Linked DNA regions of Homo sapiens: region 1 is linked to region 2. Evidence: fine-mapped expression QTL. A gene starts in region 2. The other region holds a variant in brackets. All regions are shown on one strand. Distances are from middle to middle. Region 1 overlaps SLC38A12 (solute carrier family 38 member 12). Region 2 holds the start of GRIN2C (glutamate ionotropic receptor NMDA type subunit 2C).

What was found. PIP is the estimated chance that this variant, and not a neighbour inherited with it, causes the effect. A credible set is the group of variants that fine-mapping cannot tell apart.
Region 1: its variant is the best candidate, but not a certain one, in a credible set for the expression of GRIN2C in cerebellar hemisphere (GTEx, PIP 0.50).

What each region holds. Positions count from the first base shown.
Region 1 is chr17:74,802,084-74,806,465 of GRCh38, forward strand. The region is part of intron 8 of SLC38A12 (solute carrier family 38 member 12); the gene reads left to right. Among named protein-coding and RNA genes, the nearest start is that of SLC38A12, 28 kb to the left of the region's middle. The variant T/C (reference allele first, on the strand shown) is at 1,922.
Region 2 is chr17:74,857,290-74,861,671 of GRCh38, forward strand. It overlaps GRIN2C (glutamate ionotropic receptor NMDA type subunit 2C), which reads right to left and starts at 2,596. Exons shown (of 13, transcript NM_000835.6): 1 at 2,455-2,596. RefSeq lists an enhancer at 3,423-4,121.

The DNA of each region.
Region 1 (4,382 bases), 55 kb before region 2:
CACCTGGGTGACGCCTCCCTGAGTCACCCTGTGACTGCCTCCTCCACCCTCATCCCCAGTGCCCATGCTTTCTCCTCCTGCTCAGGGAGAGGGTTGCTGTTTTTGTTTTTAATGTCACTCTCAGGGACGTGGGTTCGGTTGACTGGCATTATGCCCACCATCCATCATGCCCCACGACCTATGACCTGTCCCCACCTTGGCCAATACCTATGCGCCAGTTGAGAGGATGATGCCTAGTCCCCCGTGCCACCGCCTCTATGGTCTCAGTACAGGTGCCAGACTGGGGGACTCAGTGTCACAAAGCAGCAGGCAGTGGCTTCTTCTCCCTACCACTCCCTTACCCAGCTCGGAAGCTGCTCATGGGCCTCTGTCAAGGTCCTGAGGGGTGACAGGGTCTTATGTTCTTGCTTCTAAGCTGGTGACCGACATAGCCCCCTTCACAGCATGACAGTTGGGTGTCTCTGGCCCTGGTAGAATGTGCAGGTTGGGTATCCCTTCCCCAAAATATTTGGGACCAGAAGCGTTTCTGATTTCAGATTTTCTTCAGATTTTTAGAATATCTGCATTATACTCACAGTAGAGCATCTTAAATTCAAAAATCCAAAATATTCCAGTGAGCATTTCCTTTGAGGATCGTGTCAGTGCTCAAAAAGTTTCAGATTTTGGAGCATTTCAGGTGTTGGAATTTTGGATTTGGGGTGCTTAGCCTAAACCATATTTCTTTACCCCATCTCCATTGTCTGTAAAATAATGAGTATAGCCTTGCAAAGACTTCCTACCCGCAGCAAGCCAGGTTTACTCCCGGGCACGTGGGGAAAACGGCAGTGTAACTTACCTGGTTGCTCATCCCTCACCCCACCCCCATTCACCAATTCCCCCAGGAAGTGAATGGAGATGGGAAATGATCTGTTGCCATGACCTTGACCCACACACACCCAGCATTCTTAACTCCTAGGAACCCCATTATATGAAAATCCAAAGGTATGAAATAAATTGGGAGGGTAGTTACTTGTTACAAAGTGATTCCTTACTTTACAGAAGGATTTGCTTCAGATTTCTCTTAAGTACTCAGTTTCCCTAGTGTATTTAAATGTTGTTCTGTGAAAATTAAGCATTTGTAAAAGAACTTCAGGAGCCCTTCTCTTGTGTAAAGGGAGATATCCGTGTATTCATAGGCAAAGGTGCAGAACCCCAAAGCCCGGTTGATGTTGCTGGAGAAACAGGCAGGCAGGGCTTGGGGTGGACATCATAGGCAGCCCACCTGAAAGCAGTAACCAGCGATTCCCCTTCCCCTCTCCCCATCCACATCCCTGAGCTGGGAGAGCTCCGCGGAGCTTGATAAGTATATACCCGAGCCCCACACCTGTGCACAGGCCAATTTGGTTGGGAAGCTTCCAGGCAGGGCTCAGTGGGGGAGTATCCATCCCTGCTGGGGACCTTCTGCGCTGAGCTTTTTCAGGACCGTTTCTTTGCAGGTCTCATCCTGATCCCAGTCAGACCCCGAGCCCGAGGCCTAAGCCCTCCTTGTTTGTGAGTGGTGCAGTCAGGGATAAAAACCCGGTGTGCCTCACTTCCCAAGCCACCTGGGCTGATCCTGGCCACTGACCTGTGCGTGCACATGCATTTCCAGTCATTCCCCTCGAGAAGCTGAGCCCCGGGCAGACTCCCAAAGCTCAACAGCCCAGTCCATCCCACACTGTGCACCCCGCTGCTTCCAGAACTCCCATTTCTGGGCAAAGAACTAAAAATAGTTTTTATTATATCTGTTAAGAGTACATCCCAGTTGTTGATTTCAGATCTCTCCCTGCCACCTTTTTTATTTTTTATTTTTTTCTTCATTTCACAAAATAAAAGTGTCAAAAAACTCCATAGTCTGTGGAATCTAGCAACCTCCCAGTAGTTTGAGAGTAACATGGAATGT[T/C]CTTCAATATTTTGTGCTAACTAAAATGAAAACTGTATATGCCAAACTGTTTGTCTTCTGCTCCGTGTCTGGCTGCTCCTTTTATCCTGTAGATCAGTCTGTGGCATTTGTGGTGGCCCTGCCAAGTTTTGTGAGGCTGTGCTATTCCCTGAATGATGCTTGCTCTGTTACAGGGTGTGTATCATAAGCAGAGCCTGATGTCTTTCTATATAGCGCCCCAGGGCCCTAGCAGTAATTGTTTAATTAAATAAAGCACTCACTCAAAAGTAATAGCCGTGATCCTTCGTGTGGCCAGTGTCCCAGCCAGCGGTGCTGGCCCTGCACACTGGCTCAAAAGCAGCACCTGTGTGCAGAGAAGAAATAGCTGAGTGTGCGCTGTGCAGTGCACCCTGGCCCTGAGGAGAGGAGCCACAGAACCCCAGAGGGTTTACAGCCAGCAGAGAGGTGCGAGGGACTCGGCTATGATGGCCCTTACACAGAGCTGAACGATTAGGGTGCACATTAATGATGATATCGGATGAATTAGCATAAGCCCGGATGTCTTGTGGATTCGCTGACAGTGGACCAAGGAACATTTTCATAAGCCTCAGGCACAAAAGGAGGCACTGGGGGTGTGGCAGCAGATACCCCATGTGAGTGTGACTCTAGAAGGGTCTTGAGCCACCGCAGGGCATGTGTAGTTTGGCAATGGCAAGAACTTCCTTCAACCATGGATTGAGACATTTTCTGAACACCTTGATGGGAAGAGAATGCAGGGACTGGTATTGGGTGTTGGGCACTGGCTGAGGCCGGGAGGCCCCTGCGGTCTGTAATGTCCAGTTCTGGCGCCTTCTCCCACACTACTGCAGGGAGGCTGTGCTTCACCTGAGAGGCAGGTGAACAGTCTCTGGGAACACTTCCCAGCTGGTCCCTTTCCCCTGGATCAGGAAAGTGTTTCTCAAGATCTGGTTGCCTGACCACTGGCACAAGAGTGCCTTCGGGCTCTTAATAAAAATGTAGATGCTTGGGTCCTGCGCCAGGCCTGATGCAGTATATTCGAAGGCCACAGGGCCCAGGAATCCGCATTTTCAACCAGTTCTGAGGAGAATTCTGTGTGCTTTTCCCTTTGAGAAATCCTGCTGGCGCAGATCTGTCGAGGTAGTAAAAGGTCTCCCGGGGAGAGGCCTACTCTGGTCTTCCTTCAGGAACTGCTTCCCACAGCACCATGGTGGAGGCAGCTGTCAAGGGCTTCCCGTGCCTGCCTTTTGCAGGGAAAGGAGAGGGGCTGGGCAACCTACAGGTGCTGCCACATCCTGGAGTCCACACCTAAGGCACTGCCAGAGAGAAGAGGGGCTGTGCGTGCCCACTGGCTGGAGGCTGCTTTGTCACTTGCGGCTGACGGGTACCTCCCATGTCCCTAGCGGGTGGTGCTCTAGGCTTCCCCTGTAGCTTCCTCTGAAGCTGCTGGTTGGGGGCTCTAGACCCCGCAGCGTGCCAGCTCCCCGGAGAGGGCATCTCACTCTGACCCCCGACTAGGGAGGAAGCTGGGGGCTTGCTGATGTCACTTCTCAAACCCGCTTCAAGAGAGCTCATTAATCAGCCAGCTTGATATGCCATCTCCCCTCCGTCCCGCCTCCAAGGTTACTCAGTTCCCGGTCTATTTCAAGGCCAGACGTCAGCAGAAAAGGGGTGGAGCCAGCTGGGCCTGTGCAGCCCTCTCTGCAGGGCACCCGTGTTCTGGGCACCTGACTTCCCTCCCTTGCTTCCTCCAGCTCCTGCTGGAGCGTTCCCACTGCCATTGCTCTTCCTGCGCCGAGAGCATGGACCGAGGAAGGGAAGATGCCGAGAGCATCTCAAGTGATCGCCTGGCACCTCTCCTTGAGTGACGCACAAGCTCCGGGCAACAGAGGGCGATGGCACTGCCTCCTCCTGTTCCCAGGGCAGGGCGGGGGATTGACAGCTAGACTCTGGGCACCAAAAGCCATCAGATGCCAGCTGGTTACTGGAGACGCAAGCGGCCTCATGGGTTCCGAGGCCCATGGGCACACACATCACCACCAATGAATGTTCTGAGCAGTTCAATTCCTGGCAGAATCAGGTGGTTGGAGGTGTGGGTGTTTTTTCCCAAGGGAGCTGAGGGGCTAGATTGATGGCTCAGAGGGTCCCCCATCCTCTGTCACTTGCGACACAGCCCACCTGTTCCTCTCACGCTCTCTTGTTCTTAGGACCTGTGAGGATCAAGTTGACCCCTAGCCTGGCCCCAACAGTGGTAGCCCAGCCCCCAGCAGTTATGTGGCCAAGCAAGACATGCCCCGGCCTTCTCACTGGTATAAGATAGTGGTATACTGTGACCCCGGCTAACCCAGACCCAGCCTCTCCAGGCACAGCCGTCGGGGAGAATAATGCCGTGCACCCATCCCCTCCCTCCTCCTTGACATCCAGCATAAATACTAAAAGAGCTGTTTTTGTAGAGAGATCTCAA
Region 2 (4,382 bases):
AGATGTAGTTTAACCACAATCAGAGCCTTAAGCTAAAGTGCCAGGTGGTAGAATTTCAGGCCAAGAAGACAAGAGTTTTGGCAAGGAAGGGAATATTGCTCTCATGGTGGCGCCCTTGAAATCTTCCCATGTGTACGGTTCCCTAGTACAGTGACACAGAAGTGACAGAAGTGACAGAACTGACAGCCCAGAGACATGTTTGAGTCTGGCAAGGGATCGATCCTAGCCATGCCATGCCATGCCTCAGCTGCCACCACCAATCAGGGATGTCAGATCTCAACCACAAAGGACACTGACATGCTTGTCGCTCCCCTTGCACGGCCTCTGTCTGCTCACCTCTGCCCACACCTCCAGGTCCTAGAGGTTCCTTGCCCTCTGGGGAGCCCCAAACCTCCTACTACCCCTGCCTCCCAGTAATGAGCTCTAGATCTGTGCTGCCCAGTATAGGAGCCGCCAGTCATACACGACTATTGGGTACCAGAAACATCTCTCACCCAAACGGAGTTTGCTATCAGTGTAAAATTTCATGCCACACTGCACATTGAAGACAACAGGGAAAAAGAATGTAAAAAATCTCGTAAACACTTGTATCTTGATTACATGTTGAAATAATAACATTTGGGGTATGTTTAGTCAAAGAAAATATACTATTAAAATTAACGTCACCTGTTTCTATTTGTTTTAATGTGGTTACTAGAAAATTTTAAATTGTACTTGTGGCTCCCATTTTATTTCTTTGGACAGTGTGACCCTGGATGAAGGGCCCAGGCTCTCCCTCAACTGCAAAGGGGCAGAATAAGCAGTCTGCCATTAGCATCTCCAACCTCCTTTTTCTAAATGTATTTCTCTTTCCAACTCCCTACTCCCCTCAAGCTTCCACCCTCCCCAGTCAAGACCTTTTCTTAGCCAAGGACCTAGAGCTCATTCACATGAAGGAATAAGGGTCTGGTAATAGCTGAAAATGTTCTCATTCCCACTCTCTCCAATAGGAAGACATCCTCATGGGCTGGGGACACCAGAGACTCTCTCCAAAGGGAAGGTGTCCTGCTGGGTTGGGGGTTGGGGGTCGGGGGGTGGGGGAGTTGAGGCAGGTTGTACCTCTAATCAAGGGGCCTAAAATGGGGGAGGGATCCCAGAATACCTCCAGAGCCAGGGGCCAAAACTAGGTAAGTCCCTGGGCTCCAAATAGCAAGGGGCAGACTCAAGGAGCTTCCGAATTCTGTCTCATCACCCCGTCTAACCCAGCCACCCTACAGAGGTAGGAGGGACAAACTCCACTTTCCCCCGCCACAATCTCCTCCCTTGCCTCCCCCTCCCCACCTCCCACCTACCCACCCCCGCCAGCCCCACTGCACTGCTGAAGCCTTCCTCCAGCCACTGCTCCCTCCTCACACAGGACAGCTACACCCTGGTGCCCACAAATGAAGTCCAGACAGCTTAGTCCCATAGACAGAGCCCTCTGCACCCTGACCGCAACCAACCGTCCTCCCATCCCTGGAACCCACAGCTCTGCCAGTCTGCTGGCCAAACAGCCCCATTCTGCCCTCATCTCCAGGCCTCGTTCCAGCATCCCCCAGGCTGGAATGTCCTCATCCCAACAGAAGTCTACTCTCCTTCAGGGCCCAGCTGAAATCCCTCTCCCACAGGCACCTGCCTTGATGCCTCAGGCTCTAGGCGCAGGGACTGCGGCCAGGCTGGGGCACCTGCCCTTCTTCCCCCTGCCCTGGCTTCCCCTCCTGGGTGGGGAGCTCTGTGTAGTGGTCCCCTCCACCCCTCCATTCTGCCCTGCGGCAGGTGTGTGTGCACTCATTAACACCCTGCCCCACACTGGACTGCGGGCTCCTTGAGGGCAGACACATTGTCTCAGAGACCTCTGCCCACCCACCCACTCAGGGTCTCACCCCTTCCACAAACAGCCCTTAAACTAATGTTTGACAAACACAGAGATCCCCAAAGAGCCCCAGAGAGGATGGCAGTGGTCAGTCCTGCAGGACACAGCAGCATCTAGAAGGGTCTGAGCACCTTCCCAGGCTGGGGGCCTTCTCCTTCCCGGGTCCTCACAGCTCAGCCAGACCCCCTGGCACGGACCTGCACACACATGCACACTCCCGCACTCATACCCGCTCACATCTGAGATACCGATGGCTCTCCCTCTCCCAGGCTAGGAAACTCTGTCGCAGGAGTCCTCCCCACCCACCAGCAGAACCCCCGGACCCCCTGCCCTTCCGGTGAGCCGCCCCTCCTTTGCCGTCGGGTTTCCCTCCCTCCCTTTTGCCCAGCCAAAACCCGAACCCAGGCGCCAGGGGAGAGGACCGCCGTTCTAGCTTGCCCCACTGCTGGGGGCACGGAGTTCTTGCTCCTCCAAGGCTACGGCCCCCGTCTCCGCGGACCCCGCCCGGACTCCCCCTGGCCACCGGGACGCCCCGCCCCCTCCCCTCCGCAGCAATCTCTTACACTCGGGCTGTGAAGTTCGGGGTATTTTTAGGCCGGCGATAAATAATTCATAGGGAACGTGGCATCAGGCTCCCCCCGCGGGAGGAGGGGGCGCGAGCAGCGAGAGCCACCGTCACCCGCGGCTCAAGGACACTCGCGATGCGGCGGCGGCGGCGGCGGCGGCGGCTCCGGGCGGGGACCCGCGCCACGCCTCCTGGCGGCCAAGCTGAGCACCACGCACCCGGCGCCCCCCGCCCCACGCTGCCCCCCGCCGGCGTCCGCGGCTCCGGGGCCCCCACCCCCACTCCCCCAAGCTGGGTCGTGACCCCGAGTCCCGCAGTGGGGGGACCAAGCCAGCCTGGCAGGCGGCCCCAGTACCATCCCAGGCCCGCCCGGGGGCCCTGGGCGAACCCAGGTGTCCCGGACCTGCCTACCTGCCCCTGGCACGCTCTTATTCTTCGGGAGTTTAGAAACAGGCTCAAAGTCACTAGCACCGCCAAGACCTGGACGGGCTCTGAAATACAGCCAGCGGAATGGTACCCTCCCCAAATAAGTGTCTTTCCTCGATTTTCCTGTGGCCCGGGGTCAGGGACTGAACTAAGATAACGCCACCATCCGAGGGCTGGGGGACCGAGCCAGAAGTCCCCTTGGACGACCAGGGCTGGGAAACCGAGTGGACGAATGGGGTGGGCATCAGGGCCTGGCGGGAATTCCCGTCTTGCTCACCCAGCAGCTCCTTGCAGGGTCGCGGGACGCACCTGGGGGTTCAGGTTGCCGGGTGCCTTTGCTCCGCGTGTCCCCGCCCTGCCCGCGTAGGCAGGAAACAGGAGACTCGGGGCTTCCCCTCCCCGCCGTCGGGGATCCTGGGCGAAGCCCCCAGAGACCGGCGCAGGCGGCTGGTGCGCAGCCAGGGCCCAGCGCCAGGTCTTGCTCGCCCAGTGCCCTCTCTGCCTACCCTTCCCTTTGCGCTCTGGAAGCCCGGGAGCCGGGCACGGGCCAGCATCTGCAAGATGCCACTACTCTGGAAGCCCACTCCGATTCTCCCAGGTCGCAGGAAGGAGAGAGCTAGGCTGGGGCAAAGGAGATGGGGCAGAGCTGGAAGGGGAAGAAGCGGGACTCGCGGCGGGGGAAGGGGTCTGGGCGCCGAGGCGAGTGCGCAGCAGGTGCCCAGCAGACCTAGGGAAACTGGGGCACTGGGCTGGGGAGCCGCACAGCCCCCTTTCACCTTCTCGACTCCTTTCCAACCCCTCGCTCTGGTGGATCCCAGCCCCGGCCCCCACTCCCGGCCCTGTTCCCCGCTCTCCGCCCCGGCGGCTTCCAGCAGCAACAGTTTGGGTCCGCGGCAGCCCAGACTCCCCTGGTCCCGCGGTGCTGCCGCGCCAAGCGAAGGAGGAGGAGGGCTCGGCGACCCTGGGGACGAACGTCTTGGACGCTTCGCCCGCGTCCTTCTCTCGCGTCCGCCGCGCGCCTGTCTGCTCGGCCTCTTCTTCGCCTTCTCTCCGGCCGCCCGGGTCAAAACCCAAGGCCAGGTTCTTGAGGGTCCGGGTCCTCCAGCCGCCCCCTCCTTGAGCCCCGAGAGTCCTGCGTGGGTCCAACCCCCCGGGTGTCCCGCCTCTGTCTCCGCCGTCCTTGCTCGCGCGCCGCGGGAACCCAGCCCCAAGTTGGCGGCGAAGTTGGTGCCCCTCGCCCGCCGCTCGCCACTTACCGAGGGGAAGGGGCGCTGCGCCCGCGACGAGAGCCCGCGCCGGCCGCCTCCCTCGCGGTGTCTGTCCCAGAGCCTCGGCCCCGGAGGGCTGGCGCGCTCAGTCTCAGCTCCGCGGGCGCCGGAGCCCGGGCGCGGCGGGGCGGGGGCGGGGGCGGGTGGCGCGGCCTGGTCCGCTGGCCCCGACCCGCCCCTGCGCCCCGCGACCCTCCCGAAGCTCGCACGGCGCCCGGCTCCGTCCCGGGCT